4 linked regions of the Homo sapiens genome follow. The protein of the gene in region 2 interacts with the protein of the main gene of each other region in a pairwise test. Each region holds a gene or a part of one and is shown on either strand. Other genes may lie near its edges. The genes, in order: SNX19, PTPRN, TRDN and PTPRT.

What was found.
Region 1: the proteins of PTPRN (region 2) and SNX19 interact in binary tests that used the Homo sapiens proteins (3 or more experiments, as listed by UniProt).
Region 3: the proteins of PTPRN (region 2) and TRDN interact in binary tests that used the Homo sapiens proteins (3 or more experiments, as listed by UniProt).
Region 4: the proteins of PTPRN (region 2) and PTPRT interact in binary tests that used the Homo sapiens proteins (3 or more experiments, as listed by UniProt).

What each region holds. Positions count from the first base shown.
Region 1 is NC_000011.10:130,906,469-130,913,495, reverse strand, and holds part of SNX19 (sorting nexin-19), read left to right. Parts: intron 1-1,724; coding exon 1,725-1,863; exon of another isoform or gene 1,864-1,957; coding exon of another isoform or gene 1,958-2,045; intron 2,046-3,125; coding exon 3,126-3,226; intron 3,227-3,358; coding exon 3,359-3,478; intron 3,479-5,050; exon of another isoform or gene 5,051-5,135; intron 5,136-5,412; coding exon 5,413-5,543; intron 5,544-6,774; coding exon 6,775-6,871; intron 6,872-7,027. UniProt on the Homo sapiens protein: Plays a role in intracellular vesicle trafficking and exocytosis. May play a role in maintaining insulin-containing dense core vesicles in pancreatic beta-cells and in preventing their degradation. May play a role in insulin secretion.
Region 2 is NC_000002.12:219,299,379-219,306,405, forward strand, and holds part of PTPRN (receptor-type tyrosine-protein phosphatase-like N isoform 1 precursor), read right to left. Parts: intron 4,454-7,027; coding exon 4,357-4,453; intron 3,460-4,356; coding exon 3,198-3,459; intron 3,114-3,197; coding exon 2,759-3,113; intron 2,342-2,758; coding exon 2,210-2,341; intron 1,600-2,209; coding exon 1,565-1,599; intron 882-1,564; coding exon 607-881; intron 409-606; coding exon 322-408; intron 7-321; coding exon 1-6. UniProt on the Homo sapiens protein: Plays a role in vesicle-mediated secretory processes. Required for normal accumulation of secretory vesicles in hippocampus, pituitary and pancreatic islets.
Region 3 is NC_000006.12:123,542,944-123,549,970, forward strand, and holds part of TRDN (triadin), read right to left. Parts: intron 5,670-7,027; coding exon 5,511-5,669; intron 4,430-5,510; coding exon 4,397-4,429; intron 1-4,396. UniProt on the Homo sapiens protein: Contributes to the regulation of lumenal Ca2+ release via the sarcoplasmic reticulum calcium release channels RYR1 and RYR2, a key step in triggering skeletal and heart muscle contraction.
Region 4 is NC_000020.11:42,073,904-42,080,930, forward strand, and holds part of PTPRT (receptor-type tyrosine-protein phosphatase T isoform 2 precursor), read right to left. Parts: coding exon 6,976-7,027; 3' UTR 1-6,975. UniProt on the Homo sapiens protein: May be involved in both signal transduction and cellular adhesion in the CNS.

The sequences.
Region 1 (7,027 bases), on a different chromosome or scaffold from region 2:
TTCCTTGATCTGCTCAACACAGCTGCATCATGACATAGCATTTTAGAAAGTAACATTATGACATTTTCAAGTAAGACGGAATGGAAGTAATTAGAAATGCATATGGGTGAACACACAGACACACACTCATTATAGGCAAATTGTAGAAGTACAGATGTCTGGTCATAAAATAACTGAGACTAGCCTCAAAGGACTGGTATAACTTTGTTAACATTTTCCTGCCTTTTTGTTCTAATTCTGGATGCCCCTATGCCATGCACCTTTCTCACATTTAAGTGTTGGCTTCTGGTTATTTCATCTTTTTTTAATGACTATTCCAATACTGACATAAAACAGCAGGTTTTTTCCCTCCTCATTAGCAGAAAAATTAAGTTGATGGATAGAATGTTTAAGTTCCCAGTCTTTCTCCCATTATTTGTTCTTTTTTGTTGTTGGCTAGATTTTGACATCTGCTACTGCTTCAATTAAGCATTAGAAAAGAGTAAAGTAAAAAATGAGAACGAAATAATATAGCCAATTATGAGTAGTTTGAAATTGGGTTTAGATTTTTATATGGACATATAACTGATTTTAAATTGTATATCAATATTATTATACTTTCTGATAGTAAATAGTTTTCGGTTTATGTGATGGAAGTAACCATAACGGTGTTGAAAATTGGCCCTCGAGGAGCAGCATATTCCACAGAAAGCCTCATAGTTCCAAATGCTCCAGGCTTGAGAGCCCCACCCTGAATGCCACCTGTTGCTCTTACTTGGTCTTTCCTTCTCAGTGCTGTTCTGAGGGACTGCTTTGCTCACATCAGCTCATAATGAATACCCTGTCTCCAGAAAATTGTAAAGCACCAGCCACAACTCCCACCAACGAGGAGGTAGTTTTTTCCACCTCTTGCCCACAGTATACCTCAACCGAAAAATAATAGCCCATTCCTAATGAGAAGGCGCACATATATACTTCTCCCACAGCGTTTCATTGTGTCTTAACTACCCTGTCAAGAAGTGTGCCCCCATGCTGAGTTGCAGATTCCATGCCATCCGTGGTATTCACTCTTTGGGGAACATGAGATATAAGTCGTCTTTTCCACATACCAGCCCTCTAAGCTTAGGAAGACAGTGGACTTTGACCCCTTATCACATCTCCAATTTTCATGTGACTTCTGTGATACAGATGATACGTACTTAGGAAAAATTCAGTTTAGCTCTAAGAATAACAATTAGGAAAATTAATCTGCGTGAAACAAAACAAATACCCTTTAATTTATTCCAGATAAACAAATGATTTATATCTGCTGTTTGGATTACTTCTTCTTCCCTTAACTAATATAAATAATCACGGGAGAGTATAATGGAAAAATGGTTTGCCCCTTATGATGTTTAGCCCTGTAATTTAAAGGTGATAGAGGCAGTATCATTTTTATGGATGTTATGCCTTCTATTCAAATATTCATTTGAAAAACAGTTATGTAGCCATTTTTATAAGTCAAGAAAGTATCTGGGAGAGGGAGCTTTCAGATGAAAGTAGTAGTGCGGAGGAGTGAAACTCATTTCTGACTTTCTAAGCAATTAGATATAGGAGGTTCTGGAACAGAATAGGAACATACTCCCTCCCTTTGTTCTTAGTTTCGTACTCTTGCTATGTGGCCATTGACCAAGTAGTCAGTAAAGCCAGAATAGAAGATTGCTGAAACCCGGCTGATTGAGTCAATCAATTTGTTCGTTGAACAGTACGAGACAGCCCTTGACGGTGAAAACAGCAGCGGCCTGCAGCAGCTGGCCTACCACACTGTGAATCGTCGCTATCGGGAGTTCTTGAATCTGCAGACCCGTCTGGAGGAGAAACCAGATCTACGAAAGTTCATCAAAAGTCAGGAGTTTCCCCAACCCCTACTGCCCGCTTGCTTCCCACGTCGAGCCACGCTGATTGGCCTGTTGGTTTATGGGAGGGATCGGGGAGGAGAATGCCGTTTCAAGGTTCTCTGCTCCCTGGATTTGCTTCAGGAGTTTTGAAGTTTAGTGCTGGACAGCAGCAATCACATTCTTTCAGAGGTAGTCCTTTACTGCCAACTGCTTTGTTCTGGAGCCCCATCTAGTTTAAGATTAAAAAATAAGTGTTCACATTTCCACCTGTGCCTGTAAGTTGGTGTGAGGAGTTAAATTAACTTTTCCAGATTCATAGATTGGTGGTTCTTAAATATTAAAATATTACACAGAAGTTGTTGCCACCTTCTTTCCTTAACACCCAGATCTTTTGTGTGCTGTTATGACAACTCTCAGGCATGGGGAACCTTTTTTTTTTTTTTTTGACATGGAGTCTCGCTCTGTCCCCCATGCTGGAGTGCAATGGTGCAATCTCGGCTCACTGCAACCTCCGCCTCCCAGGTTCAGGCGATTCTCCTGCCTCAGCCTCCAGAGTAGCTAGGATTACAGGCGCCCGCCACCACGCCTGGCTAATTTTTGTATTTTTAGTAGAGATGGGGTTTCACCATGTTGGTCAGGCTGGTCTTGAACTCCTGACCTCAAGCAATCTACCCACCTCGGCCTCCTAAAGTGCTGGGATTACAGATGTGAGCTACTACGCCCAGCCAAATATTTTTTAATGTAATAAAATTTCACTCTTAAGGATTAGTAACTGGTTACTTTGTTTTTTAAAAATGATTACCCAAATAGTTGAATAAGTTTGGGCATAAATTATGTATTTTCTTTCTTAACACAATAGCTAATACTGAGCCAAGCTTGAAAATATGCGCCAGGTTCTCTCCTAAGCACTTTACACGTATTAGCTCTTTTAATGCTCCCGTCAGCCTGTGAGATAGGTGCCCTCATTATCCTCATCTTGTAGAAGAGAAACAGAGTCAGAAAGATAACACAAATGGCCTAAGATCATCATTATAGTAGGGATTGAGCCCAGATTTAAACTTGGGTCTCTGGACTTCAGAGCCCTCTCTTGTAACAATTTAGTGTTATATGGATCATATGGATCGTATGTATATTTGGAAGTCCTGAAATTGTTTTTTTTAATCCAAGGAAATATATTCAATAGTTCTGTTTTCTTTATATGTTTTATATGGAATAGCTCTCTGTGAATGTTAAATGAGTGAATATTTTGATTTTTTTTTTTTTTGGAAGATGTGAAGGGTCCTAAAAAGCTCTTTCCAGATCTTCCATTGGGAAACATGGACAGTGACAGAGTAGAAGCCCGTAAGAGCCTCCTAGAATCATTCCTAAAGGTCAGCATCCTTCTCTTTTGGCCTTGTTCTCACTTTAACCTGGGTGTCTAACCCCAGAACACCCAAGCCAAGGTGGAGAGATTTGGGGACTGGAATTTCTCTTTAAAATGTGTGTGTGTTTTACTTTTGCAGCAACTCTGTGCCATTCCGGAGATCGCTAACAGTGAGGAGGTGCAGGAGTTCCTTGCTCTGAACACAGATGCTCGTATTGCCTTTGTCAAGAAACCATTTATGGTCTCTAGAATAGACAAGGTACCAGCAGGGCCACTGTGCTCAGCTTTAGTTTTGATCTATAAATGGGGAGGATTCATCAGAATGGAGGCAGTCCTTGAAAAATAAGAGCAGTAGGGTGTGGGAAGGGGCAGCACAGAGCCGTCAATAGAACATGGACTTAAATTGTCAAGACCTGTTGCCAAATATTGGTTGAATCATCAGCTTGCTGAATCACAGGAAACAGCTGCTGGGAAACAGTACCCCAACACTCTTAAGTGTACACATATCTCCTGGGGGTATCATTATATTGTTGTACTGTTGGAGGCATGTGAAGATTGATCTGTGTCTTCACAGATAGCTGGCATGAGGGGTGGTCTTTCAGAGGGTAAAGTTCATTTCCAGTGTTGGGTCACCCAGGAAAGAGAGCCTAAGACGACCTGAGGCTGGATTTAGAGTGGTGTCATGGTTCTCCGCTAGAGAACAGAGTATGGAGAGAATTGTATCTTTTTCAAGAGGTTATCTCAGCACCTATGGAGATGGTGGAAGAAGGACATTTGTGTAACATGTCAGAGCTTGTAAGCAGTGATTACCAACTGATATGAGCATCTCTGGGGCAGAAGTCTGAGGCTTATGTTTATCAAAAGTGATGTGTGTTTTATAGGGTTGGGAAACACTGACACATTGGCGGAAGAGTAGCCTCCCTCTTCTCATCTAGGCTTGGAGCAACAAATAAAATAGAATTTCATGTAGTAGGTGTTAGGGGATATCCACTGCTATGGAAAAAACTACAAACTAAAAAGGGATCAACTGGGTAAATGCCCAGAGTTCCATGCAGATATCATTCATCCATTATTTCCACATCTACTTACTGGATGCCTGTTTTCAGCCAGACACTCTACCAGCTGCTGTTCATACATCAGTGAATGAGACAGATGAGGACCTCCCCACCCTCACAGACTACAGTTCTGTGATCCTGGAGAACAAGTTGTATTTTCTAAGCTGCATTATCTAAATGCATGCATCCTCAAGTGTTCTTTCCCTGGTTTGTTCTCCCCCAGTCTTTACTGTAGTCTGCTGACCACTCTCTTCAGCCTTGTCTTGGCTATGCTAGCTTACTCCTTATGGAGGAATACCACAAGAATGAGTCAAAGAAGGCATGGTGCTGCTCTGAGCCAGCAGTGTTAGTTAGCAAGAAGCACCAGAGGAAGAGTAAATGTTTCGTTCTGTTTCTTTGATAGTTTAAGGTTTTGTTTGTACATTGTCCTTTTTAGCAAATATCTGTATGTCATTTTGCCATTCTGAAGAAATGGAGTTAATCTTTAGTGAGGATTATTTTATTTGGTCTTGTATGAGTAGATAAGTTATAACAACTCAACTCCAGATATCTTAGTTTTGACCTGAGTGATCTTTGTTATTCTTTCTGTACCTAAAGAAGAGAAATTGTTTGAATTGACTAGAAAAACTGATTGTTTGCTCTGTGTAAGTTACTCTAAGCATGTTAATATTACTATGCCCCTTAACTGTTATTTTTATTTTTGATCATCTTCTTCACTTTTCCTTTCTCTTTATACTCCTACCTATGTACTTCCACTGATGCACATCTTGATGAAGGTGTTACCGATTTGGAAACTAGAAATCACCTTTTTACTTAAAAAGAAAGAAATTGAAAAATACATCACCAGCCCGCAGAACTCAGGTTTTTATTTCTCTCACTATTGGTTTTGGCTTCTTTTCCCATGGCGTTGTTTGTTTTACTCCTCAAGGAAAAAGATTTTTATGGCCATGGAAAAAAGGAAAGATAGTTGGCACTAAGTCATTAGCTGGTATTCGACCTTCCTACTGGATAAGGCTTTGCTAGATAGCCTGGCCCCTCTCCTTGTCCTGTTGCATAAAGTGCTGTGAGGCGACTGCTTGCTTGGCGGTTTCCATCTGTGGATGTGGATGGACTGACCCTGCACCTCTGACCCCTGCAGATGGTGGTGAGTGCCATTGTGGACACCTTGAAGACAGCGTTTCCTCGCTCTGAACCCCAGAGCCCCACAGAGGAGCTGAGTGAGGCCGAGACCGAAAGCAAGCCCCAGACAGAAGGCAAGAAGGCTAGCAAGTGAGAAGCCCTCAGTTACCCAGGGACCTTTCCCCAGTTCTCAAATTGATCCCCAATCCTCAGCCAACACTCACCCTATTCTCAAGCCCTAGAGGAAAGGAGGTGGGTCAGACATACCAGTTTTTAGGCAAAGCTAGACCCCAGGCTCCTCAGTTTTCCACCCGGAGGAGCCTGCGGTGCTGCAGAGGCAGCACTGCTGAATGTTTGGTTTTGCCATGGGAACCTGGGGCCCAACTGACCAGGGATGTTTGACTAGGAAGAATATTCTCTTTTGACTAGGATATTCTCTTTCCTCTTTTCCTGGAAAATTGAGATGTTTCTTTCCTACTAAGAATTAAGGCTTATAACTGATCTCTGTTTGCCATCATTTCTGGAAATCTTGGCTCAGAAGTTGCATATATTAGCAATAAAGAGGAAAGGGTTAGAATGGAAACCTGCAGGGCCTATTTTAGTAACTGGTTGACTACTGCTACTCTTTCCTGCACTAGGGCCCTAGCTGTTCCCTGGCAGCATTCAAAGCCAACATGTGGCAAGCAAGGGCACCACATGTACCCTTACTGGAAATTTCATCTATATCTGGGTCCTTATGAAAAAAGAGAGAGCATGTGTGTATGTGTGTGTGTCTCTGTCTCTGTGCTTATGTTTCATGGGCCAGCAATAACAGACTCACAGTACCTAACCTTTTCTTAACTGGGCCCATATATTGAGGGATGACCATGATACCTCTGCTTATGAGTCTCTGTCCCTTGAAACATTGATGTTATCACTTGCAGTTCCTTTTCTGGTTTTATTTGGAACACAAGGGGAAAAAATGGATGTCCAAAAAGGATACACCATGAATAGCAATAATGAAAACTTGCTCTATGCCACCTGTCTGTTTAATCTTCAGCAAATTTTTAATGAGTGCCTATTATGTGTTAGCTAATCTATCCTGTGGGAATATAACCATAATACACACTGATGCCAGTTTTACTTAGCAGAAACCATTTCACAAGTGCACTGTAGACATAGCTTAGTGTATGCGTTAACATTATCTATCAAGAATTGCCAGAATATACATTGTTTGGGGGATTGCAGGGCCGAGTCTTTCCTGGCAGCTCTGACCACAGTAAGCTCCCCAGAATAAGTATGGATATTCTTGTTGTGTTTTATTATCAGTACTTGCCAGCCCTTAGTGTGAGGCTCAAGGCCATAAATTACAACCTGTTTCTGCTCTTTGTTTCTGTACCAGGTCTAGGCTGAGGTTCTCATCCAGTAAAATTTCTCCAGCACTAAGTGTGACTGAAGCACAAGACAAGATTCTTTATTGTCTCCAGGAAGGCAATGTGGTAAGAACCAAAACCCAGAGAATGTGAGGCAAAAATATCTGAGATGTTGGTCCTGCAGTTACAGGTAGTTGAGATATTCTCTGAAGTCAGAAATGTCCTGCTAAATGACTTAATCAACGTTTGGATCTCCAGCTTTTATGCTAAAAGTATTTTCTC
Region 2 (7,027 bases):
ACCACACTGCCAGATAGGAGCTATGTTACTGCCTTCTCCACCCCAGACCGCAGACTTCAAAAAAGAGGCCAGCTCTGGCCCTCTCCCCGTTAGAGGATGGGGCTGGAGCAGATCGGGGATGCCCTACAGGGGCATCTTAGGCAAGGAAGATGCTGGGTGGGGCCAGCAACGGGCTGGGTGTGGCTGTACCTTCAGTACAGCTGGGAGCATCCCTGAGCTCAGAGCTTGTCTGCTCTTCCTCCCGCAGGCCCCTCCAGCCACCTCCTTGCTCAAGCTGCTTTCTAGATCTCGGCCACTGCCCTAGCAAGATGCCAGCCCCACCTGATGTTGATGAAGCTGCCTGAGGACATGTGCACATGCTCAGCCAGGATCTCCAGCAGCTTCACTCCTGCAGCCAGGCTCAGGGGCCTGGAGATGGGAGAAGGCAGAGGAAGGAAAGTGGGGCAACCCTCTCAGTCACTTTCTTAAAACAGGCCACTCCAGGGGTACAGAGCAGCCTGCCAATTCCCTGTCCCTGCACGTCTGGATTTCTGCCCTCTGCTTCTGGCCAGGCAGGCCAGCCCAAATCCTAGCAGACCAGAAAGCTTCCCAGGATGCAGCCCTTACTTCTGATCAGTGACGATGTAGCCATATTCCTCTGCTGCTGGGCGGGCTGAGGGCTGTCCTGCCACCGTGGGCTGGCTCTGGCCCAGTGGGCTTTTCTTCTCTAGCAGGACAGGTGTCACAGGGGGTCTGGCAGCTTTGGGAGGCTCAGAGGAGACAGGGCTTGGCACCTGCTGGACTTCACTGGAGGTAGGGCTGGCAGTGGGGTGTCCAGGCATGGGGGATGTGCGGGCTGGAAGCTCTGCTGTGTCTCTGCCCTCCACCGGCCCCTCCATTGTCTGTTCAGAAGAGGGTGGAGGTGTGGCCTCTGGACAGTGCTGGGGGAAGGGGTACCCTGGACTCGGAGCTCTCCACAGTGGAGCTCAGGACCTGCTTTTCACTTTCTACCCCCAGGGACCACTGCAGTGCTGGGTACAGAGAGGACACCAGAGCATCTGAGACAAGTAAGTGGATGCATGAATGAATAAAGGATTGAATGATTGAAAATGGTCTGTACTAATCCACAGAATGGGGCTGGAGACAGAAAACCCCTGCAGCAAGAGAAGCTGGGGTGAGGGTAAAAGACAAACAGGCAGGCGATGGTTTCTAGACTTTTGTTTAGCCACAAAGTCTTAGAAATCCAACACATGAAACAGAAAGAAGCAGAGCTCCTCCTGCTACAGAAGCTCAGGAAGGGCTCTCTGCTCGAAACTTCCCTCCTCCCCTAGGAATCCTCAGAGCATGGTCTGAAATGATTGTAGTGAAAAGAGGAATGAATTAAGAATTCAGTTTTCTGGCTCCAGTTCTGCCATCAACTTGATGGGAGACCTTAGGCAATAACTTGCGGTCTCTGGGCCTTGGTTTCCCCCAAAATGAGGGGTGGGAGGATACAGATTCTAGGTCCTGAATTTGAAATTTAGGTTTGGCAAGGGGGCGTGCTGCCATGGGGTGATTATGAGTCAAGGAGGTGCTGGGGACTCACTTTCTTGATATCAGCTCCAACATTTACAACCCCTCCTGCGAGACAGGAAAAACAAGAGTCTGGAAAAATGGCCATGGCCAAGGTCTACACAACACAAGTGGGAGAAAGGGCCAGAGACCCTGAGCCTGGAACATTTGCTGTGGTCTTCATCTCAGTCAGTGACCAAGACCCTGTTACTGGTCTCATCCTAAGCCTGGCCTCATTCCTTTTTGCTTCCTCCTCCCAATTTACTGTTTTATTAACTCCTCCCTCTACCATTGGCCATCTCTCTCAAAGCTATTCTTTGTTCAGTTATTTCTCTACCCATCAATTACTGGCTTCTTCTTAGTACTGGCTATGCCCGTTTTTAGGCCCTCATTGTCACCAACCCATCCTTCCCGATGCCTCCTTTTCCCTGCTCACACCCTCTGTTGGCTGCTTTTTCCATTACTTCCACCATCTAGTCTTTTCCTGATCTAACTCCTAAGCTTGCCACCCTACCCCCTTGCTCCCTGCCTTGCTGGCAATGACCCTATGTCTCAAAGGAACTCTTTCCCCTGAAGCCTGACTCTTCCTCTCCAGGCTACTCCAAGTGGTCTCGAGGCAGGGCAAGAGGCCTCCATGGAGCCGGGAGATATTGGTCCCTCCCTCTGCCTGGACACTTACCCGGATTTCTTCCTGCACCCTTGGGCAGTAGCTGCAGCAGGGTCAGGAGTGTGGAGAGCTGCTCAGGGGTCAGCTGACGCAGCTCTACCCCATAGCCCGCCAGCACAGCGGCCAGCCTCTGCAGAGCCGCATCTGCTGGGAGCCAGACACAGAGCTTAGGGCTGATTGCGCAGTGAACTTGAGGGATGCAGATGAGTGAGTGAGGGTGGGAAGGGACTAGCATGTTAAGAGAGTCTTCCCAGACACCAGGACACCAAGAGATGCCCTCCCTTTCCCAGCCCTTGTCCACACTTTGGGGGAAAGTTCTTCCTGGGACCCAGATCAAACTTCAGGACATCTTGACTCTCCACTGGAAGGAGAGTCACGTCAACTCCACTCCCCACCACTTCCCTAGTGCCTGGCATAGAACAGCTTGTCAGTAGACATTCCTTAAATGTATGAATGACTTTAAGGACAAGTTAACAAACGCATAGATTGTCAGGGAAGGGCCCCACCATGGTTCCCCCAAAGCAGCCCTCACAGGGAGGTGGATGCTGAGGACCTTGTTACCTGGCTGCACAGCTGGGGAAGCAGGCTTCTCTCCACGATCCCCTAGTCCTTCCTTCTCATAGCCCTCTGGGGAGTCCTCTGCCCGGCTGCTGCTCCCTTGCTCTGGCAGCCTTGGCACCCTGGCCCTGCTGGGTGCTGGCAACTCCTGGGCCAGATAGAGCAGCCCAGAGTCTTGAAAAAGCTGGGCAGGTGAAGGCCCTGGAAGGTCCCCGTAGGAGTGGCCAGGGTGGTCCCCAAATATGCCCTTGGAGGCAGTTCTGCTGAAGAGGGCAGGGGCTTCAGCCTTGGGCAGGGGGCCGACACTGACCATCCCTGGGGAGCCCTCTGAGACCCTGGAGCCATCACGGGAGCCAAACTGTGGAAAACCAGAGATCTGGGTAAGAGCAGAAGTCCGGGCTGAGGGACTGCGGTTGGGGTGGGACCAGAGTCAAGGACTTACCTGGTGGAACAGGTAGGGCTGCAGCAAGGCAGGTTCGTAACTCAGTGAAGGGTGGGGAGGCTGTGGGGGCAGCAGCAGGTGCTCCAAGAGAGGCGGGAGCAGCTCAGCCTGCAGAGGGGACAGAGAGGAGCTGGCCCCAGCTCCACCTTTGCCCACTGGTGGTTGTGGAAGCCGATGCTGGGCAGCAGGGGCGGAGCCAGTGGGGATGTCCTGTAAAAGCAGCTCTCCAGCAGGACCAGGTCTCTTGGGTGCCAAGCCAGACCTGTAGAGGAAAGCAAAGTGTGTGTGTTGGAGCGGGGGAAAGGGCATAGAGAGCCTGCAAGGCAGAACTATTCGGGGCCAGGCAGGCTCAGCGGTTAAGAGCAGGCCTGACCTCTTTAGAAACTGAGTGACCTCAGGGGAAGAGAGATGGGCTGGGTGGGAATGGGGAGGGACCAGAGGGCCAAGCTGAGGGCAGAGGTATCTGCCTCCCTGGTGAGCATGGCTGAGTCTCTGAAACAACTGCAAAGGCTGGGTAATCATGAGGCTGGGGATGGAGAAGGGGCAAACAGGAGCAGGGGAAGGCAACCAGGAATTTCTCTAGATGAACTGTGGCTGCAGCTGTCCCCGTTGCCCCTGTGTGCCATGTCCCCACACCTGGCTCTCCAAGTATATGTCCAAATATTCAGGACTGCTCCTCCACCCCCCACCACTATGCCATCTTCATCCTGGTATCATCATCTGAGCTCCCTAAACCTCATTTACTTTCCTCTGCTTTGCAGTCTGAATGATGCCTTTAGAGGCCCTAACCACAAAAAGATGATGGTGGCTCCTGTCATATAGAAATTCACATAGTAATGAAATGGAATATTGAACAACTTCAGTCCAACAGCATTCTAATTTCTCCCATGATGACTACATTGATGCTTCTTTTAAAGTAGCCAATGTCAATGTTTTTCAAAACATTCAAAAAATGCCCGTTTTTCTGGATCCCTAGAGATGAGCTCAGCTCCTCTTGGTCATGTGAGCATGTCAGAGAGTGACCATTCCTGCACCTCTTTACCTGTGCCCCAGCATGCTGGCCTTGGTGCCCACTTCCTTCCCCTTCTCTCCATCAATTAGGACAACCACAGATTCATCAGCCTCACCATTGCTAGAGTTGTAGAGAAAGGCTGCCTACCTGTCCCTTGGACGGGGCTCTGGGGGGCGAAGCCTGGGGATGCGCTCCATCTCCTGAGAGATCACATACTGGGTGAGGTCATCGTGCCAGGACAATCCTGTCAGGAAAGAGGACAGCGTAAGTTGGTTCAGGAGTCTGGGGATCCAGTAACGGGGACCACTGGGGATCAGAACTGTACCCTCTGCCCTGCAGCTCATGGGGTTTGTCAGAGTAGAGGGACAAACTCAGTGGGTGATCTGAGCTGTCTTCTTCCCACCCTCAGGTACAGCTATTGGAGCCAGACCACCTGGGTTTGAATCCTGCCTTTGCTACTGATGAATTATGTAACCTTGGGCAAGTTGCTGAACCTCTCCAAGCCTCAATTCCCTCATCAATAAAATGGGGATTTATACCTCCTAGGATTGTTATTATCATTAAAATAACACATATACATATCAAACGGTTAGAATAGTGCCTGTCATGTAGTGAACTTTTAACAAATGCTATTACCATAATTATTATTACTATTGTTATTATTCTTTGTGTTGACCCTGAACCTCAACTTTCTCTGTTTGTAAAGTGGAAACGATACATATTTCAGGGGGCTGTTGTGAAGATCAAGTGTGATCAGGGAAATCAAAGTGCTTAGAAAACTCTAAAGCATAATCCACATGTTTTAAACATGTATCATCATCTTCATTGTCGTCATCATCATCATCATCACCATTATCATCATCATCTTATTCATAGACAGCTCTCCTGTTTGACTCTTTCCCCCAAAAAAACTCTGCTCTCAGGAAAGTTCAGTCACTTATTCTAAAGGAATAATTTCCCACTTTTCACCCTCATTTTTTCTTCTCTAGTTCTGGATTTAAAATCTGTGCTGCTCTTAACTTGTATTCTGGTATCTACCAACATCCACACCTGCCTCCTTGCTTATTCACATTAGATGAGCTGTCTGTGTTCCTATTTAAAGCCAGTTCCTCTGAGCACTAGATTTCATCCCCTCTCACCTATTCAGGAACATTCTCCTTGCAATTCTCTCTTCTTTCCTACATAATTTCCTTTGTTCTCTACTGAATTATTCACATTATTCCCATGCAAACAATATGCAATTTCTTCCATCTTAAGAAAAATACTGCTTGATCCCACTTTCTTCTCTAGGGATCACTCCATATCTTTGCAGCAAGACTTCTAGAAAAAGTTGTCTATACTGACTGTATCCAATTCCTTTCTTTCTATTCCCTCTTAATCCACTTTATTCAGGATTTTATTCCCAACTATTCTACCAAAGCTGCTCTCATCAAGAGCAGCTTTGTCTGCATGTCCAAATCTAGTGGTCAATTTTCATATCTTATTTTACTTATCCCGTAATCATCATTTGACACTGTTGGTCACTCCTCCTCCTTGATACACTTTCTCCTGGCTTCTGGGACACTGAACACTGTTGTTTTTAATCCTACTCCACTGGCTTCCCCTTCTCAGTCTCCCTGAGAGGAAGTTGATGGTTCCTCTCTTTATCCTGGTCCTCATTTTTTTTTTTTTTTGAGATGGAGTCTCGCTCTATCACCCAGGCTGGAGTGCAGTGGTGCGATCTCGGCTCACCACAACCTCTGCCTCTCAGGTTCAAGTGATTCTCCTGCCTCAGCCTCCTGAGTAGCTGGGATTACAGGTGCTCGCCACCATGCCTGGCTAATTTTTGTATTTTTTGTAGAGACAAGGTTTCACCATGTTGGTCAGGCTGGTCTCGAACTCCTGAGCTCGTGACCTGCCTGCCCCAGCCTCCTAAAGTATTGGGATTATAGGTGTGAGCCACTATACCTGGCCTGGTCCTTTTAATAGAAGAATTATCTAGGACTTGATCCTTGGTCTTCTTAATAGACACTCAATCTTTTGGTTATCTCATCCACCTCATGGGTGTAATTACCATCTATATGCCAAAGAATTCCAAATTTATATCTCCAGGTGAGAACTCTGTCTCTCAGAATCCAGTCTCATGTACTCAACTTCCTGCTTCACTTGAGTAGACATCTTAAACTCAACATATTCAAAGCTGAACACCCCCACCAAGTTGAACCATTTGCAAGTTTCCACATTATAATTAGTGACATCTCCACTGATTCAGTTATTCAGTAAATAAAACCTTTGACTCCTGGCTGAGCGCGGTTGCTCACACCTGTAATCCCAGTACTTTGGGAGGCCCAGGCAGATGGATCACTTGAGGTTAGGAGCTCAAGACCAGCCTGGACAACATGGTGAAACCCTGTCTCTATTAAAAATACAAAAATTAGCCAGGCATGGTGGCGCGCACATGTAATGTCAGCTACTCGGGAGGCTGAGGCAGGAGAATCACTTGAACCTGGGAGGTGGAGGTTCCAGTGAGCAAGAGATTGCATCACTGCACTCCAGCCTGGGTGACACAGCAAGACTCTGTCTCAAACAACAACAACAACAATCAACAAACAAAATAAACCCAAAAAAACTTTGACTCCTCTCTTTATAACCATATCCAATATTTCACGAAATAATGCTGACTACCTTAAAAATAAATGCAGAATTCTCTCATCCTTCATTCCTTCCCTGCAATCACCTTGGCCCCATCCACATTCATCTCTTATCTGAGTTATTGTGGTAGTTTTTGTTTGTTTGTTTTAGTAAAGTGAAAGCAGTTTATTAGAGAAGTGAAGAAACA
Region 3 (7,027 bases), on a different chromosome or scaffold from region 2:
GAATAATTAAGGGAATTAAAATTTATATTTCTAAAAAATAGATATCATTACTATTATTCACATTTTCATATGCTTTCAGTTCAATTTATTAATAACATCATATAAAGATTTACCCTCTTCTTTATCAAATATACAATGCCCCAACTATTCTAGCTTATTTACTGCCTTATTTGATCATGTATTCATTAAATTTTTAACTGTGGTATTTGCAGGACATTTTACTAAGTAAGGTGATCTTTTACACCTTTGCAATTACGTAAGCTATAAAATAACATGTTGCATTGATCCTGATGCTAGCAATACCACATCAAAACTCCATTACTGTCATTTACTATTTTATTTAATAAATGTTCATCATTAGTCTTTGGGAATGTGGTAAGCAAATAGTACATGTTCTCTTCCACCAGCTCATTGCTTGGCTCATAGAAAACACTTGAAAAAGATTAATTGAAAAAAATACATTTGTTGATTGAGTTTAATCCCAGAAGGCATAAAACATGTCCGAATTCTGTATTAGTGATTAGCTAAGGATATACATTGTACCGTCGTGAATCTTAGACCTCTGTGCTTTGCTCTCACTCAGAAACCTAGGAGTTACCCAGAAAGCAAAATGTTTATTTTCTATTACAATCATGCTCAATTTTTTCCCTTTTATATTTCTTAGAAATTTTGCAAAACTCTGCATCCCTTCCTACAAGTTCTAAAATTTTTCATCATAAGTTGAAGGATTACAAGTGATATAATTTATAGATTATTGTAAATGTTGACATTTAAAAATAAAGTTGCCATATCCCTTTTAAAAACTGAGTTGATGGACTCCAAACACTATAATATTTTTAGATGTCATTATCAACTTAAAATATTTATCAAAAAATTATTTCTTAACATTTGGAAGGTTTTCATCTTTCTCTTTTCTCTTTGAATTCATATTTTCATTCCACCTCTCTCACGAAAATTTTACCCAAGAGCTACATTATGATTCTCTAAGGAAAAAAGTGTACATATTGAAAATTTTAAATTTCCTCCATATTCTGTGATTTCACATCCTGTAATATATTAACCTTTAGACTATAAGAATCTAAGAATCTAAAGGTTAATATATTGCAAATCTTCATAAGTTATTATTAAACCTGAAAAATGAATTTTTTTTAGAATGCCATCGAATGAATGGAGCTTTAAAATCACCTATCTGTGGATTAATGTATTTTACAGTTAGAATGAGACAGCGTTCATCAATAAATCTAACCCTATATTTTACTTTTAAAGATACAAGTATTGAGAAGCCTTATGCACATCTGTACATACACACACACACACACACACACACACACACACACACACACACACACAGTCTTATTGGGGCAATGTTACTTAATTTTTTTGTCTCCTTCCAAGTAACGTTGAATACCACAAAGAACCAACAACAGATTTATTTATATTTGAAGTGGAAATAGTACGGTTATAAACCGGGCATGCTCTCAAGCAGATCAATTTTAGGAAAACATTCAAATGACATTCAATTCCTTTAAATCTCTCTGCAGTTTTATACCCCTTAGAAAGTGAGGTGCTAACAGATCCATGATGTATACCCTGGTGTGAAAAATATTGCTTAAAAGCACACTTCCAGATGTGCAAAGTATACCACTATACACAACAAATAATTTTTTCCGAAAATGTGATTTATAACAGTATTTGGTTTTCATACTTATAATTTTTAGACAACTATGTAATAAAATATAGTATTTTCTAAAGATTCAGTGCCTTGGGGTCTCATCATGAAGTGTTTAGTAATAGAACTTAGTATTTTAAAATTTTGACAAGTTGAAAAATATGCATGAAGAATATAAAGACACTAGGTACTACATGTAATACCCTGAAGCTATATTTATATATAACAACAGATTCCACAGGCTAGCAGAATCAAATATTTCATCCATATTAATAATCTGTTTAATAATCAATACTGCAACCCTGAGATTAGTCGACTACACCATTATTCCATACCAAATTAAAAACTGCAAACTTCAACCATAAATAACAAACTGGCTGAATTTTTATTTTGTTAAGAATAGCAGTAACTCAACAAATAAAACTAAGTGTATTCAAATAAAATGTTTTAGGTAGATATAGGGCAGTTGAATAAAAAAATGCTACAGCCTGATAATTTAGGCAATAAAAAATGACTAAATATTATTGAATATATATGAATTGAGAAGGGTATTAATGAAGAGTCATTTAGATGTGTAAAAATCAAATGTTTTAAAAGACTATCATTCTACATTGCCCCCAAATTCCTTCTTAAACCAACATTTGTAAATGTAAACATGAGTAAAATAACTTATAAGACAAGAATAATTTATAGAATTTCTCCCCAATAATAATGTTAAAAGTATACTTAAAATGTAGAATATGTATTATAAATGTTTTATAAAATATTACCTACTGCTTTAAAGCTCTCATTGCCTCTATACTTCCATGAAAGAAAAGCTTACACATAAAAAATAATAATTACAATGAAATAGATCTTCTTGAATTCACTTTCAACTAAGGTTTATTATTACATAGCCTCTGTACCCAAGATAGAGCATCTGAGATTTTTACTTAAATGTCAATTTTTTTCATGTAACTGTGTGAATAATACTATTAAGAAAATATATTCAGGTGATTTAAAGTCAATTCTCCTAATTCTGAGTATGTAATCTTTAAGGACATTAGTGCACATGTGTTGAAGGACATATATCCCTTAGACTATTTTTGACTAATAAACATTTCTAACATTTTTTAAAAGTACCCTAAACAACTATTTAATAGTTTTTCTGGCAAAAATTTGATTTGCTGAATCAAGGAAATAATTTAAGAAACAATAGTAAAACAGCTTTGTATGAATTTGCAGTTTATACTAATTACTATATGAAGCTTAATTTTAAAATAATTTCAAAGAAAAATTTAAATCAAAAGAAAAGATTTTTTATTAAATAGTAAATATCAATTTATGAAAAACATGGCTTTATAATAGTCTTATGGAATTCAGTTTATAAGTATAAATGAGCAAACATTATTTATCTGTTTTCCCTTCTTCCATTTCCAATGAAAATAAACGTGCATAAGCTGTTATTTCCAGATAATGACTAATAACTCACTTAAAGCTTGACTATGTTCACTCTCTATGGGAAATCAGCTATAAATCTCTTGAAGTTTATAGACAAATCTAGAATCTCTAAACCTGGATTTGATGGCTGAAGTCTGTCTTGAGTACTTGAGTTCTCATTCTGGATTTGCAGGTGTATAAACCCTTCCTTTCTCCTCACAGAGCTTTATAAACACTTTCATTTCTGGATGCCTTTGCCATAGTTGAGTTTGACTGGCTTAGCTCTTTTTTGCTGTGTAAGTTACAAATCCAAAGTTTCTAATTTAACATACACTAAGTGGATTTTACCCCAGATAGTGTGGGGTAGTCATCATTTTCTCAGGGAAGGCTGAAACTGTAAGTTTGGATCCCATTGTTTGAATCCACAGTAGGTATTAGGAGAGAGCAACAGAAGCCAGGGTTATCTTCCTGGGTAAACCCTCAACAGCCTGCCCATGTGTAGCAGTAACTAAAACACTGCAATTGTTTTAAGTCTGGCTTGAATGTTGGCTGTTTTCTCACAACAAATGTACCTCAAGATGGTACTACCTGCTCCCCAGTGCCCCTTCCAGATGCAGTTCCTACCCCTTCCTGTCAAAATCTCTGTCTTCTGAAATTCCTGCCCCATTGCTGTCCTCCTTTGTCCTAGGTTTATCGTTCTTATCATTCAGGTTGTGACCACTTCACTCAGTCACCTTATCTATTCCTGCAAGTAATTCCTCTACAGCACATCCAGGCACATCCAGGTAACTCCACTCCATGACAGTGACACATCACACATACCAACTGGATATGCCTTTGCCTCCTAGGCTGTTATGTCCCTCACCGTCTTGTTGTCCTGGCCCATAGTCATCACCTAACATGCAAAATAATGATGGCAAAAAAAATAAAAGGAAAAGAATAAGAATAAACATTTAAAATCAATAAATCTGACCATGGTGAGAATAAATCATGGGTGTCATTTTCTGGGCCATTTCTAAGGCTACAGAATTCTCCCCTCATTCCTCAAATTCCAGCTCATATTGGTCTGTGTATAAATGAATCCATACAAATCTACTGAATAAGGCATTTAAAAAATAATCAACAGAAAAGTAGTGAGATCACCTTCATTGGAAAAGAAATTGAGTATTTTTTTTCTGACTATAAATCTTGACCTAATTATTAAACAAAACCTTTATATTAAAATAAGTAAAATATATTTGAACCATGCTGAAAACCAATATTACCATAAGAGAAAAATAATTATTATCAAAGGTGAAAACAACTAACCTTTTTTTCTCAAGGGAGGCTCATCTATTTCTCCTAGACCAAGATTAAAAGAAAAACAAAGTTAGAAAATATTTTAGCATAGAATAATATGACATCATTATTTTCCCCTTTTGTTTATTTAAAAAAATCTATTAGTTTTAACAATCATAGTCTTTACATTACTTTGCTTCCCAAATTCCAGTTTTTAAGTATAAAGTTTGTTTATATACATTTATATAAGATTGTTTCATTTTTATGAATTCAATAAAATTGTGGCAGTGATCCAAATTATACATTATAGGTTATATATCATATTAATTTCAACTCTCTATTGTTCATGTTGAACTCTTACTGGGGCCAAAACAAATATAATTTCAGGAAAAGTTATAAAAATACTCTAATAATAAAAGCTTTCCTGGTAGTCAAGGCTGAATACATGATTTCTGATGACTAAGACTGACCCTAAAAAGTGTTATCTAATAGATGGAATCACAGTGCTTTGTTCTTTTCATACTCATTCAATGGCAGCTTTTATGTGGTTTGAGATGGCTATTTCCTTTTATTCATTAATATATATGAGAGAGCACATAGGTTAGTTGCATAATTGTTAGGACATTTAGAATGTGTCCTTCTATTCTACACCACCATTTGGTCCAATAAATTTACTCTTTTGATTGTACTTTTAGTAAGATTGCTTTCTGCTATTTGACTATAAATATGACATATGTGTATAAAACACTTATATGTATTTTTAGTTTTACTGTTTTTATTTTAATCTTCCTAGAGATAAACTTGAAAAATAACTATTTTTTCCAAAGAAGCATATAAATGTGAGTTTGTATTGTGGTTTTATAGCAGAGCATAATGAGACTCCCTTTGCTGTAATGCTACATTAATATTAACATTTAATTTTGACATCTTTGCCATAATGGTAGATAAGCTATAAGATGAAAATTAAATAAAGAACAATTTACTGTGTTTGGCAGCCTGTTGATATGCTTTTAGCAGTCAGAAGTGTATTCATTTTGGTTTAGCTTGACCCAAGTGCTCATTTGAATTTAAACTGAGGCAAGCCACTATAATACATATTTAATGTTGCTCCTAGCAGTTAGATATATCTCTATGTTCTTTGTACCTTTATCAGTATCTTCGTCACCATCATCATCTTCTTCATCTTCAGATGAGATGATGTCAGATAACAAAGAAAAGAAGCCATAGATCCAGTCCGTGGTTTCCTCCATAGCATCACGTACCAGTTTTAAAGGATCTGAGCCAATCTTGGCAATAGAGCTTGCTAAAAGTAATTAAAAAAAAAAAAAAAGAAAAAGTTTGTGATCATTTCCAAATAACTTAAGAAAAGCTGTTTTTACTGATTTGTTGTTTTGACAAAAAGAATATGTCAATTTCAACATTCTAAATATCTCCTGGCTACAATTTTTTGCGCAGAAATAGAAACTTCATCTTGCTATAATATGCATGCATGCCAAGAAAGAAAATGCCCTTGGGAAGTTTATAATCCAAATAAGAGTTAGCACTGGAAAAAAAATTAGGAATGAATTAAAATAATGTGTATTTATGTTACCCAGAGTGCAAATAAACCCTATGTTATGGATGTTCAGGAATGGAAGAAATAATTTCAGCACATATTGTATGGGACAGCATTATAGAAAAGATGACTCTGTAAGTTTTCAGACAAATAACAAGTTCTGCAAGTTGACTAAGGTAGTTGTGGCTAAATTAAGACTGATAGGCCCATTTATTCTAATTTGTGATACCACAGGAAGAATCTGGAATAGTCAAGTTAGTGATCATATCAAGCTCTAGTTGGAATAGGTTGGATTTATCTTAGTCATCCCTGTACATGAAATAAAAAAGTATTTGAACTGCTAGTAACTTCAATGGATAGAATCTATAAGTCTTCCCTTTTCTATGTCCTAGGAGATATAAAATGTTTGCTAAATGAAAGATTGAATCATAAAAAAATGCAAACAAATATATTAGGGATTTCCAAAATTTTATTCTTCCAATCATATGAAAACTGCTCTGAAGAGGCAAGCATAGCCTTTAGGATGTGATTACAGAGGTGATCTATCTAGAAATATGGTATAAATTGCATCTGATTTTTTATCAAGCTGTAATTAAATTTTAGAGCTGTGTTTTCCTTAATTTTAAAAACTATTTTAGCTTTTCAGAGATTTTTCTCTCTTTGATATATTTAAGAGATGAGAATTATATCAATGTATTATACTACCTAAAGGTTAAGTACATCTAATTAGGCTTTTACTGTGACTAACATAGTAAGTCATTGGAAGATTTGAGCAGAAAGATGAAGTGATTTGACTTCCTTTACTGTGTTGAAGTTTGAAAGGGTGCCAGGCTGGGAACAGGGAGATGAGTATGAAGCCAACTGAAATCATCCAAGAGAAAGATGATCATGATTTCTATCAGGGTGGTAACAGTGTGTGTGGTGAGATGCAATCAGATTCTGAATGTATTTCAATGACAGAATTAATAGTAGAAGCTTCCAGTGTGGCTGTGATGTGAGAGAAAGACAGAATTCCAGGATAACTTCTAAGTTTTTGGTGTGAGAAACTAGAATGAAGGAAGGAAATGCTCTGAGCTGGGGGAGGACTGGAGAGAAACAAGATTCTT
Region 4 (7,027 bases), on a different chromosome or scaffold from region 2:
CACCTGCCTTCTTTTAGACAGCTGCTGAGATGGGCAGCTTATCCTCTCTGGCAGACAGCAGGTTCTTCCTTACAGCTATTAAGTTTCACTCATGGGTCCTAGTTATACTCAGAGGAGTGACCTGGGTCTAGCAAACTGTGCTTGACTTCATCCAAGAATCTGCAGAGCTATGGAAGATATGGACACCATATTCTGCCTGACCCCTCAGAAGCCTAACTTTACATGGAATGACACCACTCTGCCCTCTAAGCCTCCAGACTGCCCTGGGGCCTTTGACCCAAAGAACACCTGACATTATTCATCTTCCATGGGAGATACAGGGACAGGGTGGACACTGAGAGTTTGTTGGACCATCATAGAGAAGGCCCACTGATTTGTATTCATAAGCCCAAAGGCACTGAAGTAATTGTACAGAGACTCAATTTTGTAATTTTGGTGGTTTACTTCCTATGACCCTTTCTCCTCCACATCCAAGAGTCCTGCTCACTAAGGAACCATGAACTACATTAATTACCCTGAGCTCCAGGCTTTTATACTGATACTTTTCTGTCCAACACTTCAAGGCCACCAGACACTCATTCTCCGAACATTCCAATTAAGGATCAGAGTCCACATCTCACCACCCAGAGCAGTTCTCAGATATAGAAGGAAGCCCCATAATGATCAAGCCCCTAAAACTCTTCCCAATAGATTTTCTTTCATCCTGAGCCCTTGCACTTCCCTTGTATCTGCCCCAGTGGACCACCCCTGAGCTCTTAGATAGGTGGGATGCTAGGTTTGGAGGCTACCATTGTGAGTGTTGATGCCTCCTTTTAGAGACCTAACATTCATGAGTGGATTTCAGTTGGTGAATGCCCTTTGATGACCTTTTCCCATCTCTTCTGGAGGTGGGCAGGTGGGATGCAAAAGACTGGCTTGATCTCTACAAGACATCTCTATAGTCAGTGCCATGCAAAAGCCCATCCCTGGTTACTAAAAAACTAGAAGAGTCTGCTCATGTGCACAAATATGGCTTAGATATCTCTGCTGTGCTTCGGAGGATCAGATCCATGATCCTGAAAAATGTGTCAGAAGAAACTGGAGCTAGAACAGCTCCCCCCACACTCCACCACTAACCTCTCTCCCTGCTGTTCAGTCTATGACCTCAAAGGCAGATCCCTGCAAGACAAAGCCAAGGCCTTGCATTCTATCACTTCTAGACATGTATACATGGAAAACCTCCAACAGGGAAACTTTGCATGGGAGGAGTAAACAAATCTGAATCTCAGCTTGTCTCTTCTAGTTGGATTTACTTTTCCTATTTCCTTGTTTTACTTGGCTGTGATTTGAAGCTGGTCACAGGCTAAGAAGGAGCTCAGACTGTTAAGTAATGGGGAAGCCAAGTCAGGGATTTGAGATGACATGACTATCCACGTTTATGTTTTTTTTCTTCTAACCTACCCTCCAGTTGGGTTGACCATTTTTTTCCCTGGGGATCCTGGCCCAGCACAACCTGTTGACATGACTTAGGAACAGCGTCCTGTTCATGCTTCCTCTTGGGCTCACCCATGTCTTCCAGAGTGTTACTCCTGGTTGAGCTTGGTGCTGATGACCTGTTTACCCAGCCCAGGAGTGGCAAGCTGCAGCCTAAGGAAGGGTGGCTTTCTTCATTTTGTCCCAAGGCAGTGAGGTACCAAGGAATTATCATTTCCTTCAATGTCTCTGGATCTGGGTTGGGCAGTCACTCCTGCAGAGGTAACAGGATAAGGGCCTGGCTGCTACTCCCTGGGCCTCACTTCTGTTGTGTAGAGCAGTCTTACTGGACTGATACCTCTATGTACTCTAAGGGGTTCCCACCAGCGACGAGGAAATGTAGATCCTGGTGAGGACTTACAGCAAGAGCTAGTGTGGCAATGGGGAGTGGAGGATGAATAAACATGATGGGTCAGAGGGAAATGCATCATCTTTTGCCCCAGACACTGAGATTTGCCCTTGTTCCAAGTGGCTCTGGCAAGCTGTTACCCATCCTTTCTCCAGCTATGTCACAGAAGTGACCATTTTGCTAAATAAGTCATCTGCATCCTCGGTTCTGAGTATTCACTGGGTTCCAGTTTCCTGGCCTTGCGTTCCTGTTTTCCTGCCTAAAGTGCTCCAAATCTACCCCTTCTAATGTTGATGAGGGTCCTTTTTTCATGTATGTTTTTCATGTATGTATGTTTTCGTTCAAACTAAAGACTGAGCTCTGTCCACCACAACCCCATGCCTTACCCAGGAATTAATTGTGCCATAGTAATCTCGATTTCCTAATAGTGCCCCCTCCAAGGTGCTAGGTGCTGTAGGCACCCAGTAATTATGTGTGGCTAGGGTAAAGTGAGGAGCCTTCCAGACCCCAGCTGCTCATGAAGTGTGTCCTCAGACTTGCCCACATTAGCAACCATGTGACTCCACTTGGACAACAGGCACCACTTTCCAGCCTAGCATTCAGGAATCTGCTGAGTACAGCTGTGTCCAGCTTCTCTTTTCCCTTTAGGGTTTTGTGGGCTCATCCTTCTCCACGCCAGATGAGCAAATCCTCATCATTCTAGTGTGAGTTAATGGGTTCCTTCCAGCACCCAACTGGAAGATGCCTTAGTTGAGGTCCCCTCATGAACAGTGAGGTCAGAGCACCCACACACCAAAGGAGCTGCCTAGGAGAAGGTCAGTTGGTCTTGATCTTGAGCCTATAACTGGCTCTGGGAGGCAGCAGGGTCACTGCTCCTAGAGTCAATTCTAGGGTCAAGCTGAAGACCAGCTGACCTAGGGTCCGTCATAGCGGGGTGAACAGAACAGAACAACATGAGGAACAGAGCACATTTTTTTTTGAAATATTCATAGAGTCATATTAAAACCAACAAGGCTAAATCAGAAAGTGGAATGCAAATTTTGCATGAATTGTGAACGTAAAACATGAGACTATGAAGGAATTTTAAGCTTACTGTTGTTTGCTTTGAGCTTTATCCACTGACGTATCTGTTCCACTCTAGTCTCTTCTGTTATGGGTAACCTCCTGGGAAAAATGTGAGATACAATGGTGGAAAAATATTGTCTCTGTAGTGAGAAAAAACCGGTTTAAATCCTGGTTCATTCACTCACTAGCTGTGGAACTGTGGGCAAGTGATTTCTCCCCTAGGAGCCTTAGTTTCCTCATCAGTAAATGGTGACAATCACAAACCCTCCTTTAGAATGCTGGAAGAATTTAATGAGCTCACATGTTAGAGTCCCCAGCATAGGGTCTGTTGGTTCCTTTGCAGGCCACACCCACAGAGAGGGCCAGCACTAAAAGCAAACTGTCCCCTTCCATTCCCACAAAGAGAGGCCTACTGTGGCCTTCTAGAGGCCCAAGGACCCCTGGTTGGCCCAGATTCTTCACCCCAGAAAGGATGCAATGTTGGAGTGCAGCTAAGATACATCCTGAAGCTATTTAGGCCATAAACACAGGTGGAGAAATTTCCTGGGCTTCTCATTACTTCCTTGCATCTTCCCCAAACAGAGCCCACATCTATGAGGTAAGAGCTCCTGTTGTAAAGACTCAGAGAGCATTAATAATATTTTCCTCTGCTCATGACAGGCTGAGCTCACCCTGTAAATGGGGTGGGGTGGGGAGACCCCCTGGGGGTGGTGGTGTTGGCTCCGGAGATTTCCTGGGTAAAGGAAAATGTTCAAATTCCTGGGCACTGGTGCCCCATCTCATCCAAGCCTTGCCACATCCTTGTCCCATGGGATCTTAGGGAAGTCATCCCCATCCATAAGCCTCAATTTCTTCCTGTGTGCACTGGCCTAAGACCTATTCACTGTCCTGCTTTAGAGAATGGTTGGGTTGTGGGAAAATAAGGGGATGAGCTGGGGGAAATCATCACTGGCCCTTGCTGGGTTACCCCAACATGGCCTGAGATTTTTTTTTTTTGCAAGTTTGTTTCTCCCTGAAGTCACACCTTAAATTCCTACCATTTAAAATGATAAAAGCCACTGTCTTTTGTATCTGCCAGCTATTTCACCCCTTCCTGAGCAGAAAAAAATCTTAGGATTTGTGTTAAATAGCTCTCCCTCCACCCTCATCCTGTCTGGATGTACCAAGATCTAAGAAAATAGCATACAGCAGGCAGATTTGCCATGCTACAGGCTCCTTGCAGGCTGGGGAAGGCCAGCTGGGGCATTGGGCTGGAGCCGAGGGAGGCCAGCAGGCCCAGTGGGGGTGGGTCCCCGGGGTCTGCTGAAATACACCTGGGGAGAGGCTCATCAAAGGAAAAGAGCAAGTTCATCGTGGGGTTCCTTTGCTTGCCTTTGCTTTGAGGCACTTCCTTTTGAACCTCTAAAGTGACAGCCCTTCCTTGATCAAGTCTGGTGTCCCTGGACTTCTGGACAGCTCCAGAGCCCATGCCAATGGAAGCAACTTTTGTCGGCTCCTTTCATGTTCCATCCTCATGGGCCTGGAGATCTGGGTTGGTGACCCTGCTCCGTGGTAAAGCAGAGACCCTGGGTTTCTCATAGAATCTGAGTCTCATGATCCATTGCATATTTAGTTCCAGCAACAAAACAATGAGCAGACAGACAAATAGATGTGATATTAAAAAGTGCACGCTTAAGGGAATGTTTTCACAGTGTCTGATGAAAGGAAAAGAGGCAGCCCCATTGGCCCAGAAGGAGTCTTGGCCAACACGAAGCTGAGTGCATCTCTCTAAAGCTCCATGGACTCCTTGTTGCCAATAGGACAAAGTCTGTACTCGCGATGGGCATCTGTCTCCTGGACCCTGGCTCATCTCTTGCTGCTCCCCGTGTTGTGCTGTGCCCGCACTGGGCTGGCCTCCCCCAGACTGCTTCTCCCAATGCCTTTTCACATTTCTTTGCCATTGCACATATGGATCCCTTTGCCTGAGTTTCCTTTTTTTCCTTTTTATGCTTGTTAAGACCCAGCAGGAATGGACGTCCCCTTCTCCAGGAAGCCCGAGGCCGAAGAGACTTTCTTGCTCCTAGGCTCATGGAACACTCATCCACTCCACACTACTGCACCATGGTTCCATTTCCCCAGCATACAGTGGGCTCTTGAGGGCCAAAGCTGTACCTTCTTGAATTCTCTGCCCCTCATGCCCTGTCTGGGGCTAGACCAGCCTTCAAGATGGAGCTTCCTAGGTCCCAGCCCACCTGAGGCTGTCAGATATTGGGCCTAAGCACTGGCTAGAGATCAAGGTCGAGAGTTTCCCTGGCTGGTCCATTCATAGCCTGAAGGAACAGGGAATTGTTTTTACTGACTAAGAAATTAGATGAGACTGGCTTTCCTGGGGAGCTGGGAATGTGTTACTAAAATATATCTGAAATTCTGCGCTTCCCAGAAGAACTGGCATCAGGAAGAAAGTACTAAATTTCCATTTGTGGAGTTATCTGCTCAGAAGTTTCTGGCCTTATTTTCCCTCCATAAAATAATTGCTTGGCTTAGAGAAGATGAAGAAAACAGCACGGAGAAGTCTCATTGCCATTACCTGCCCCTTTGGAACCCAGGATTTCATTACTAAGGAAGGTGCGTGGGTTTCCTCATTGGAGGAGATGATCAAATGGAGATGATAACAAGTCAGTAGCTCTCTCCTGGGGGTTCTAAGGACTGTGTGAAATGTCCTATGGAAAGTGCCAAGCATGATCCCTGGCATACAGTAGAGACTTAGCAAATGTTGGTTCCCTCTCATTGACTCACTCACACTTTGGACAAGACCCTAGATCTCCAGGCCTGATTCTCTTGGCCTATTTTAAATCAAAGTATAATGGGCTCCACAATGGCCTTTTTCAAGGTGGCTGCTGGGTTTCTTTAGGAAGGAGTTCAAATTTGGACATCCAAATTATGCACAAAGCTGGTGCTCTATTTGCCCCAGAAACCAAAGGGACCATCTTCAGGCTCACCCATCTCTCCTTGCTCAGTGGCATGCTGTCCCAGGGTGGGAGCTTTTAAGGACATTGCCAGGAAAAAATAAAAGGCCCGAGAGATTTGTCTTAGAGGTACATACTCAAACTCCCCCGCCCCCTTCTTTTTGACATAAGAGACTAAGATTTTACACCCTCCAAAAGAAAGTTTCTTTTCACATACACTTTGGAAAATAATCAAATCTTATCTTGTTTGTCTCTTCCAAAGAAAGCTACCACCAAAGAAACACAGGGGTTACATCCTACAGGTCAGCCCAAGCCCTGCCCCAGGGAGGTGGTCCCTTTTTACAAAGACAAGGAGGAGCAGAGAAGTTCCCTGCAGTTCCACCCCCTCCCACTGACCACACAAAAAAGCAAAGAACACCTTTATCAAAAACTGCTGTGGACACAGCTGGCCGGCCAGTGAATGCTGGACGGTCAAGGCCCAGGCTGGGGAAGGGGTACAGAATGGTTGTGGGCGAAGCCCCATGCAGGTTAGGTGTGAGGATGGGGGGCCTCTCTTGTGGCCTAGGGAACATCGTAAGGTCACACTGGTCCAGACTGCAAATGTCTGGTGCCAGAGGCCCCTGAAGGAGGTTGCAGGGGGCAGCAGAGCAGTGACCCCCAAGAGCCTCAATCTTTTCCATGACGTAGAGGAGCAGAACACACATCTCCTCCACTCCTAAGGAGAAGGAGGGCAGGGGAGCCTCCCACTCCCCAGCACCTGCACAGTTGGCTTGCCAAGAGATCCACAAACTCAGAACAAAAGCAGGTGGTCTGGGAGCCAGAAATCCAAGGCCTTGCTTGTGGGTGTACTTCTGCTTGGGCCCTTGGCTGTGGCTGGTTAGGTTGAAAAGGAAGCCTGGGCCTTTTGGAGCAGCATCTCCCACGGCAACAGGAGACCCCTCAGAAGGTGCAGAGCCCCCCGTGGAACACAGGGCCACCAGTCTTCTCCTTGGAGTCAGGCAGGGTGCCACCTCAGAGCTCCTGAGCCCAGTTACTGCCATTCACACAAAAGGGGGCTTGGTCACAGCAGCCTCTGGACTCCGGCAGGTTCCCCATCCCATTGAGCTAAAAGGAGCTTAAATATTCCAGTGCCACCTCGTATACAAATTTATACTGT